2 separate regions of the Homo sapiens genome follow, and region 2 is linked to region 1. Evidence: fine-mapped expression QTL. A gene starts in region 1. The other region holds a variant in brackets. All regions are shown on one strand. Distances are from middle to middle.

Region 1 (5,386 bases):
CTTTTTTTTTTTTTTTTTTTTTTTTTAAATAAACTTCGTCCACGGAGTACCAAAGGCTGTATGTGTACTGATACCTTAACATCATTCATGGGAATGCTGAGTCATAAGCCACAATTTTACCTACTTGTATGCCCAATGTCTGGCACATAGCGAGCCTAAATCATCCAGGCATTTGTGTCATCTTTGTTGCTATTTCCTTTTAGTCTTCATCTGTTCGTATAGATAATTTGTAATCATGGAACACATGGGATTTTGGATTATGATTTCTCATTTAATTTTCCTGTTAGTCTTCTCATACATTTTAATAGTTGCATAATATTGTGTCATTGATGAACTATAAACGTTCCTGTGTTCTTGGACATTTAGATTTCTGACTTGTTTTCTTTTTAAGATGATGCTACAATGAGGATATATATATATTGGTGAGGGTCAAGTAGATAATGCCATATTATTTTCAATTTCAAAGTGAATTAGAAGTTATTTATGCATAGCTACTGTGTGCTGTGGAGAAGATGAAATCTTGATTCTTGGTTCCAGTAGCTTATATTGTCATTCTAGAATGCAAACTAACATGTGAAATAAATAGAGCTAAGATATGGGCTAAGATGTATGGTATTAAGTGCAGTTAGAATTCTGAGTCTTAGGTGATCAGAAAGACACCTTTTTTTAGCTCTTTTTTTTTGAGACGGAATTTCACTCTTGTTGCTCAGGCTGGAGTGCAGTGGCGCAATCTCAGCTCACCGCAACGTCTGCCTCCCAAGCGATTCTCCTGCCTCAGCCTCCAGAGTAGCTGGGACTCTACTGGCGTGCGCCACCACGCCCAGCTAATTTTGTATTTTTAGTAGACAGGGGGTTTCTCCATGTTGGTCAGGCTGGTGTTGAACTCCCGACCTCAGGTGATCCACCCGCCTAGGCCTCCTAAAGTGCTGGGATTATAGGCGGGAACCACCACGCCTGGCCAGCCCCTTTCTCCTTTTAAAGAATCACGGACTGTTGTGTTGACTAGGCAATTTCTAATCATCAGTCTATTCTGACAGCATACATATCTCAATGTGTTTTGTAACACACTGTACATTTTCGTCAAGACTAGTAAAGTATGTTGTTATAGCCACATACATAAATATTTAATACTTGGTCATTATAATTGGAGCCTGGGCTAAAGGTTTTCTTTTCGGAATGGCAATTTTAAATATTCATATCAAAACTGACAACTCTCAAACTCCTGGCCTCAAGCAGTCCTCCTGGCTCAAACTTCCGAAGTGTTGGGATCAGAGGCGTGAGCTACCGGGCCCAGCCAAAACTGACAACTCAGAAGCCATTTAATTTAGCTTAGTTCTTTAATGTCTTGAATATTGTTCTAGAACATTCTTGGAGATACTTTGGCCATGACATTTCTGTTGATCTGTAAATGTGCATTTATCCTAAGCCATTGCCCCTTTTCAGGTCACTGTGTCCAACATCCCAATAGGCCAGTATAGTCTACTTAAAAGCCAAGTTCTTAACTGACCAACTCTAGTTGAGATAGAATGGTTTCTAATTCAGGTTCTTTTCGTGATTTTAATCCCATGTCTCTCTTATGAGCAGGTGCAAACTACTTTAGCGCCTTGATCTTTTCCACTTTCCATTGACCAATTTCCAAATTATTAGTTACCTCAATCTTAGTTTTCTTTATGGATTAGTTGTTTTGTAGCCAGTACAAAGCTGATTTGCATAAGCAGTGAGCTGCTGCTAATTCTCTATACATATATTGAGATTAATGTCTTTGTAGGACTGACTGAAAAGTGAATCAATGAACTTACATTTCATATTATAATTATGAGAACCATCAAGAAAGTAACATTAAAATAATGCTGGATATAGTAATGAGTTTGGTACTATGTTATTCATATAACCAGAACTTCATTTAACTTCACTAGTACTGAAAACCAAAGTGAGTTCCTTAATAACCAGCGAAAATTTTGGAAACTCATTCTGCAATCCTGTGTGTCAGAAAATAAAACTTTTGAAAGATGTAAAGAAATCCTAGAAGTAACATGCACGTTTAATCGCAAGCTCATGAAAGTCGGCTAGAATGCAGAAATGCCAACAAATTTAATTGCTAAAAAGCTGAATTTGCAACTTGATTTACTATTTCAACTCTGTGGTGACATGAGCATTCATCTTCCCGCCAATGGGACTTTTTTTCTTTTGGCAGAGGTTGCAGAGAGATGGAGTCCCCATCTCCGCACTCAGCCTGGTGCGAGCTCGTGCGCCTGTGCCCGCGCTTCTCGCCGTCTCTAGAGACTAACCACCGGCATCTTAAGCAGCTTCGGAAGGAGTGCCCGGGCTGGGTTAGAGATGGCGGGCAGGTGGCAGGGAAAATCTACAGAAATGTTACCCCAAGCCATGTGCTTTGGCCCCATGAAGCGCTAAGGTGTGGTTCTCTAGGGTGTGGGTGCTGTGTGTGGAGTTGGGGAGCAGGGGTCAGGGGGCAGTAAGTGTGGGGAGCTGACCGGCGCCTCACCTTGCCGGGGACCCCGCGGTGGTCCGTGCTGCCCTGCCAGAAGCGCCTGCTGTAGTTGGTGATGTATCCGACCAGCTTGTCCTGATAGGGGAAATCCACCTTCCAGATCAGGGACCCGTAACCAAAAACCCACATCTTCTCGCGGCTCCTCTGCCCCAGTGGCCGTGAACCCTAGCTGTCGCCGCGCCGCCGGGGACTGAAGCCTCCGGTAAGCGAGTAACCGGCCGCGCGGGGCGCAGGCGCGATGGCCACTTGGGGCGCAAAGCGCACTGGGAGTTTAGATCCAGAAAGATTTTCCGAGCGGATCTCAGTCAGCTTTATTTTATTTCCTTGATTAGGGTGTCAAGAGGCATTGACCTTCGGTGTAGTAAGCAATGGATTCTTTTGCAGCATCCGTAAATCACCCTAACCTACCTTTAGTGCCCGTGTGCAGAAAACTACAATACCCACAATGCTTTTTGGAGCTATTTGGCTCTGAAATTGGAACTGGGCTTATTTCTAACGGGGCCGAGGAAGGAGAAAAGAGCAGGAGTCGTCACTCGTGTCCAGATACGGAGGCGGTGTACCAGCACCGCAGGTAGCAAAGCACCTAGAAACACGTTTTGTTCTGCTTTGGAAATTAGATTTTTGCCTATATAACAGCAGCCAGAGGAATGTAATTCATATTTGATTTTATGTCCTGAAAAAAAAGTCTTTTGCCTTTCAAATAAAAGCAGAAAGTTTACAATAGAAGTTTACGCTTGTGAAAGAGTAGCTGTCATTTCAATGGGAATTGTTTATATATTTAAATTTTACACAAATTTATTCATCTTTAGTATTATCATTGGCTTGTTCACAAAAGAGCAGGCAAATGTTCTTAACTTGGGGCCCCTGTAAAGGCTTTGGAAACGAGCTGGGGAACCTGAATTTGTATACAAAATTTGGGGTGTACACTTTTCTAGGGGGAAACTACAGCTTTCATGAGTTTCTCCAAGGGGTCAAGGATCCTAAAATTTTTTGAAGATCTGCTCATTAGAGCTCTTGCTGCAAAATATTGTTTAGGAAATTCGCTTGGACTATCATGGCTGTGTCTCTGTGTGTGAAAACAGAAACCTTACCAAGTGATTGTTCTTTCTTGAAGATTTTTATACCATGATCTTGAATGCTAAAACACTCAGATTCAAGGGGTATTATTTGTTTTCTTATAAAGAAATCAGCAGGAAGCTGCTACCAGACAAACAAACAAAAAAAAAAGCAAGTCTTTTCCTATTTTCTCTAAGTTGTGGTTTCAAATTGCCTGATATGGTTGCTAACCCTTCTTTTTTGAAAAATTTTGAATACACAGAAAACTCAGATAAAAAGAGTGTAATGACCAATACCTTTCATCTAGATCCAGTAATTACCATTTTGCACAGTTGCTGTACTTCCTTTTTACTTTATTTATACTTTTAAATGGAGAACATTTGAAGTTGCTTGTGTTATGACATTTTACTGCCACATACTCTACATGTGTCTCATAAGAATAAGGACATTCATCCTAGAACAAGTTCCCTAAAAAAAAAGAATAAGGGCATTCTCCTAATAACTGTGATGCCATTATCACATCTGAGAAAATTAACAATAGTTATGTAATCAAATAAGTATTCCATATCCAAACTGCTTCATAGAGTCACTAACAAGAAATTGTGTCTTCGAGAGAGTCACATGAGAGCTATACTGGACTCTGACTGGAGGGGAACTTGAAGTGAGCATTGGAGGGAGGTGATGATGTGGGCAAGAACTCTGTTAAGAACTTTCTGGGCTATGTAGGAAAACCGGGCTCATCTCTTCATGGTGTTCTCTGTTGGTTTCAGTATGCTCAGTCAGTGGGTCTATTTGGTCAAGCATAGAGAATCTGAGTGTTTAACCTCTTCTGGAAAGGACAAGCAGGTGCAGGAAGACTAGAATGACACCTATCTTTCACTGCTTTTCTGGCCTCTTTGGGTTTAGTTGTTTCCTATAGAGGGCTGTATATTGAGGCTGAGCATTGCTGGTAGTTGAATGGCCATCTCTGCATAATGTAGTGTACACTGGGGATTAAGCAGAGGTGCTCTTATCAATGGAGCACCAAAGAGGGTGCTCTTATCAATGGAGCACCAAAGAATGCGTTGTGGTGGGGTATGAACAGGAGCAGAAGCCTACTCCTCAAACATTTCCAGAGGAGGAAAGATAGAACACTTAAAAGTCCCTTCATGTTTTTAGTGGGAACCTTCCAAGGAATTCCAATCTGCCAAACAGAGAAACTTCCTGCTTTAGGCACCAGCAGAGACTGTGGCATGGCAGTCACTTTCTGTATTGTGGGCCCTTCTTCGTCAGTCATGTGAGAGATACTAGACAGGCCCACCGTGATTTGCTGACCTCTAGGAGTGAAGTGTTGTTTTATTGACTATAGTATTATCCTTCTACCTTGTTTTGTAGACTGGTCAAACAAATGGATTTTACAGAGGCTTACGCGGACACGTGCTCTACAGTTGGACTTGCTGCCAGGGAAGGCAATGTTAAAGTCTTAAGGAAACTGCTCAAAAAGGGCCGAAGTGTCGATGTTGCTGATAACAGGGGATGGATGCCAATTCATGAAGCAGCTTATCACAACTCTGTAGAATGTTTGCAAATGTTAATTAATGCAGGTAAAGTAAATTCAAGGTATGGAGGCTTTGCCTACAAGCTGGATTAATAAAACATAAAAAAGTATAATACATAACTTATTAACAGTAGTATTTGTTTCCCTTTCTATAGTCATAAAATAACTGCCTGAATTTATTTATTAAGGATAGTAAGATTGCCTGCCTTGGATTCAATTAGTATGATACTCTAGTTGGACATCTTATACGGAAGTGCCTCTGTCTGGCCTCTTTTTATTGACTG
Region 2 (5,386 bases), 56 kb after region 1:
CTTAGTAGAATGATGTTTTAAATAATTTATTAAACCCTAAAATATCTAACATAAAATTTGAATTTTGGGGGTTAAGGTGGTGCTAGTAAGGTAATAAAATTAAAAGAGCACCTTTTCTGTTTACATATAGGAACATTAATTTTGTTTCAAATGTATTTAAAGACCTTTTTATTAAGCAATAATAAGTGTAACATTCTGGAGTAAATATATAGCATGTAATAGTTTAATGTTGTTGGTAGAAGGTACACCCTAGACAGAAATATTTCTTTAAATGAATCAGTTGGTAATTCTGAAAAAAATTGTGCTATAGAAATGTTGCCTACATTTATGCACATATACAAACACTAAATTCTCCTGAATTTGTGTATTTATAGAATCTTGGACTTGTTAATACCACTTACTAACCGGGCCTGTGACACTGGGCTAAACAAAGTAAGCCCTGTTTACTCAGCAGTGTTTGGGGGACATGAAGATTGCCTAGAAATATTACTCCGGAATGGCTACAGCCCAGACGCCCAGGCGTGCCTTGTTTTTGGATTCAGTTCTCCTGTGTGCATGGCTTTCCAAAAGGAGTATGTATATTTGCTATGTTTTTATTTTTTATTCTTTTTTGCTGTATGGAGATGTGTTTTGAAGTGACTTTCTTTCACGATGAAACTTAGTATCTCTGTTAGTGCTAAATTGCTATCTTGGAACACAAATAGGAAAAAAACTATGATGTTTCAGTCAAGCTGAAGCAGAAATGAGGTGATAATATCACATTGTTTTCCTTCCTTCTTTGGATCTGGATTATATTTTTAGTGTAGCAATCTTAGGGAATACGTACAATTTAAGTAGACGCAGAAATTTGCTGATATTTTTGGTCTTCAAAACAATTCAAGAATTAAAAATGGGGCTTTATCAAGTAAGGCAGTGACTGCTTCAGGTCATTTACCGTTTCAAATTTATAAGATATAAGCCTAAAAATTAAACTTTAGTTTTATAGATATTATTGTGTTTTTAATGTATTTGGTGGATAGCATTAAAAAAAATTTTTTTTTTTTGAGACAGGGTCTCACTCTGTGGCCCGGGCTGGAGTGCAGTGGCACCATCTTGACTCATTGCAACTTCTGCATCCCAGGCTCAGGTGATCCTCCCACCTCAGCCTCCAGAGTAGCTGGGTCTACAGGTGTACACCACCACTCCCAGCTAATGTTTTTATTTTTAGTAGAGATGGGGTTTCTCCATGTTGCCCAGGCTGGTCTTGAACTCCTGGGCTCAAGCAGTTCCCTTGCCTCGGCCTCCCAAAATGCTGGGATGTCAGGCATGAGCCACGATGCCTGGCTTTATATTATTTTTGGATGTGAGTCTAAATAATTAAGTTTTTAAACGCCCCCAAATTAATTATTTTTCTAATCTGTCATAATTCTGTGAAATAGACTAAGTGAAGAATTACTGCTGCCTTGTTAGTGTCTGGCCAGTAACTTTGTCTATAACACTCTTACAGTTTTAAAACACTAAGAATAAAGCTGTGTGTAAGAACAGCCATATTGAGTAATATCTGGTCATCCAATAATGGAATAAGTTATGAAGATAGATGCTATTGTGTTTAATGACACAGAAGAGGTTGCAGGCATACCTCAAATTGTATTGGCCTTCTTGAATTCACTATTATGAATCTCTATTTAATTTGAGTAGTTATCAAGAAATTATTTACTAAGCTTTTCAGCCTTTACTATCTCTTAACATTTGCCATGTAAAATTAGTAGTTCACTATAATTTGTTTCAAGTTTAAGCTTACACGTTTTAGTAGAGATAGGGTTTCACCAGCCTGGTCTCGAACTCCTGGCCTCAAGTGATCTGTCTGCCTCCAGCCTCCAAAAGTGATGGGATTATAGGTGTGAGCCACCCCATCCGGCCTCTTAAACTTATACATTTTAGTTTGAATATTTGGGTTTTGGTTAATCTGAGTATCTGGGGCCCACTTTATGTATAACTTTCATGATTTCATAGGATTTTCTTGTGTACCCCGTTAAGTTTTGTCTTTTTAAACAGAAGAGCCCTAATTACTTTAGTTGACCTTCAGTGAGGTTGCACTGATAACTTTTAGTTGCCTTTCTCTATCCCAAATCTTAAGTCCGTTACAGAACTGAACATTTCTTATTAGACCAGAATATAATGATTTTGGATTGCGCGCGCGCGCG[C/T]GCCTGTGTGTGTGTGTGTGTGTGTGTTCAATATGATGATGGTCTTTTTTGGCCTTCATCTTATCTTTTGGATGAACAATGTTTTTGGTCCTTCTGGTCACAGCAGCTAAGCTCACGCCTCATCACCTTATAAGTGTAGTTTGAATTAAGCCATATAATGTAGTACCCCTGTTAACTCTGAAACACCTTAAAATTAATGATATTCCTTGGGAGCTGGGCAGTATGTTTCATGCCTTCTGTAGATTCGGATAAATGAAATTAGGTGGGAAAGATCTTAAATAGGTTTCTGGATTTTCCAAGATTAGTTGAAATTTTAGGGGGCAGACCCTTTTTTCTCCTTTGATTTCTACAAAATCAGTCAGTAACACTAATTGACCATTTTGTTATGTAGAGAGCACTAAATAGATCCTGTTAAACTTACTGAGGAAGCTGAAACATACACACGATCCTTTAGGAATTTAAAACCTAATGGGAAAAACAGTATTTAGTGGCATTTACTTCACTATCTTCTGCTGTCTTTGGCAAAGAAGCGTTTTTAATGTATTTTTTTTTTTTTGTATTTTTTTATAGAGACTCATGGAAGGGAAGGTTCCTATTTTTTTCTGCTGTGTCTGGGATAACTGCAAATAGGAGCTATTATCTCATTCTTGAATAGTGATATAAATGATTTTTTTTCTTTTCCTTTCACAAGTACTCCAAAGTTGTATTTTTAAGGAACTCCACAGTTTGGTTTGCTTTTTATGTCTCAGTTACTCTGTAGAATTTTTTTCTGTGTAAACTTCAGTGATGCTAAGAAGTTCTTAACATGCAGTGGAGTAATTCCACTACAGCCTCTCTCTTTCTCTCTAATGACTACAAAAAACTGTGGTCAAAATTCAAAAAGAAACTACCTGAGGACTCTCAAAGGAACAAAAGCAGATAGATTATGAAAGAGAGTGGTAACTTGGTGAAGTGACCCACATGAAAACGAATTTTCCCATTTCTTTTTCCTTTTTTTTTTTGAGACTGTCTCGCTGTGTTGCCCAGACTGGAGTACAGTGGCGCGATCTGGGCTTACTGCAACCTCCATCTCCCGAGTTCAAGTGATTCTCTTGTCTCAGCCACCCAAGTAGCTGGGATTGTAGGCATGTGCCACCATGCTCAGCTACTTTTTGTATTTTAAAAGAGATGGGATTTCACCATGTTGGCCAGGGTGGTCTCAAACTTCTGACCTCAAGTGATCTGCCTGCCTCGGACTCCCAAAGTGCTGGCATGAGTCACCGCGCCTGGCCTTCTTTTTCTTCTGCTGTGTTGCCCTGAGGGCCAACCCTGATCTGGAGCTGAGTAGCACCAGTGGCACCAGCAGCTAATATCAGTCAGTAACATTAATTGACCAGTTGTTTAATATAGAGAGCACTAAATAGATCCTGTTAAACTTACTGAGGAAGCTGAAACATAGACACAATAGAAAGCCTGTTTTTCTGGTCAGAGGAATCAGGTAAATGGAACCCTGTGGGCCAGAGAATGGTAGGGAATCTTGGAGAAGAGAGAGCTTGGAGAAGCGGATACCCTAATTGTGCATATGAATTTGCATATTCCTGACTTACCCCAAGCTTTAAATGCACAAGATAGACCCAAATTGTTTTTTATTTTGTTTTGTTTTTGAGACAGGATCTCATTCTGTTGCCCACACAGAGTGCAGTGATATGATCATGACTCACTGCAGCCTCGACTTCCCTGGGCTCAGGCAATTATCCTGCCTCAGCCTCTTGAGTAGCTGGGACTACGGTTGTGCGCCACCATGCCTGGAATTTTTTTTTTTTGTATTTTTTGTAGAGACAGGGTTTGCCGTGTTGCCTAGGCTGGTCTTGAACTCCGAGCTCAGGTGATCTCCCTGCCTTGGCCTCTCAAAGTGCTGGGATTACAGGCGTGAGCCACAGCACCCAGCCAACCCAAAATGTTGAAAGTAAGATTTGAACTATCATCAGAGTCTCAGGCTAGACCCTGAGTGGCACATTCATGGGTCCAAGCTTAAAGCAGGAAAGTCAAGGCTTTTGAGAACTGAGCTGACGTTGGAACCACTGTATAAGGTAAAACAGAAATTGCAGTTTGAACCTAACTAGGTTATATGCTTGCTGAAATAAACAAACCAAAAAGCTAGTGTTCTTCAAAGGATTATAACAAGACCCAGGACTCAGAATTTATACAGCATAACATTCACAATGTCCAGGAGACAACCTAAAATTATTTGACATATGAAGAACTGATAAAACATTACTAAATCTCATGGGAAAAAGCAATTAATAGATGCCAGTCCTGAGATGGTCCAGATATTAGAAATATCAGATAATTGAAAGCAGCTCTTATAATGGTGCTTCATGAGGCTAACACACTGGAAAAAATGAAAAGGTAGAAATTCTCAGCTGAGTAGTAGAAACTATAAAAAAGACGGAAAAATACAATAATCTGCAATGAAAAATTTACTACATGGACTCCATAGCCAAATGAAAGATATAGGAAAGAGTAAATTAACTTGAAAGTAAACCATTAGAAATTATTAACAAAGGGGAAGACATGCTGTCTGGCAGCTGGAGCGTGCAGACTGGCGTGGCACAGCCATGCAGCTTCTGGAGTTTCTGTTGGTTAGAGATTCAGGAGTAGCTTGGTGGGCAGTTCAGGCTTGGAGGTTTCTCTTATAGTTGCATTAAATATCAGATGAAGCTACAGTCATTAGCAAGCTTGACAGGAGCCAGGGGATCAACTTCCACAGAGGCTCACTGACATGGATCACTCATATGGCTGGGTGTTGGCAGGAAACCTCGGTTTCTCTCTATAAAAGCCTCCCCACAGGACGGCTGCAGTATCCTCATGGCATGGTAGCTGATTCCCTCAGAGGAAGAGGTCTAAGAGAGAACAAGACGGAAGTCACAGTGACCTGGTTCATTGAAATTATGGCTGTCACCTCCGCAGATCACATACACAAGCCCTGATTCAATATGGAAAGACTGTACAAAAGCACAAATAGGAGGAGGAAAGGATGATTGGGGGCCATCTTGGAGGCTAGCTGTCTCACACATTATCTCTGAAATTGCTGTTTTTTAATTTTGAAATTTTCAAACATATGTAAATGTAAAGAAATTGGTACAGTGAACTCCCATAGACCCATCATTCATATTCAGTAATGATCAAGGAAATGCCATCATTTTATTTTGTACAAATATCCC

What was found.
Region 2: its variant is fine-mapped to the expression of CHAC2 in whole blood (INTERVAL, PIP 0.97).

What each region holds. Positions count from the first base shown.
Region 1 is chr2:53,765,139-53,770,524 of GRCh38, reverse strand. It overlaps CHAC2 (ChaC glutathione specific gamma-glutamylcyclotransferase 2), which reads right to left and starts at 2,721. Exons shown (of 3, transcript NM_001008708.4): 1 at 2,504-2,721. The coding sequence starts at 2,638. ASB3 (ankyrin repeat and SOCS box containing 3) reads left to right here. Exons shown (of 10, transcript NM_016115.5): 2 at 4,940-5,148. The coding sequence starts at 4,953. It overlaps GPR75-ASB3 (GPR75-ASB3 readthrough), which reads left to right. Exons shown (of 10, transcript NM_001164165.2): 2 at 4,940-5,148. RefSeq lists enhancers at 2,190-2,379, 2,400-2,749.
Region 2 is chr2:53,709,570-53,714,955 of GRCh38, reverse strand. It overlaps ASB3 (ankyrin repeat and SOCS box containing 3), which reads left to right. Exons shown (of 10, transcript NM_016115.5): 7 at 375-572. GPR75-ASB3 (GPR75-ASB3 readthrough) reads left to right here. Exons shown (of 10, transcript NM_001164165.2): 7 at 375-572. Among named protein-coding and RNA genes, the nearest start is that of CHAC2, 56 kb to the left of the region's middle. The variant C/T (reference allele first, on the strand shown) is at 2,184.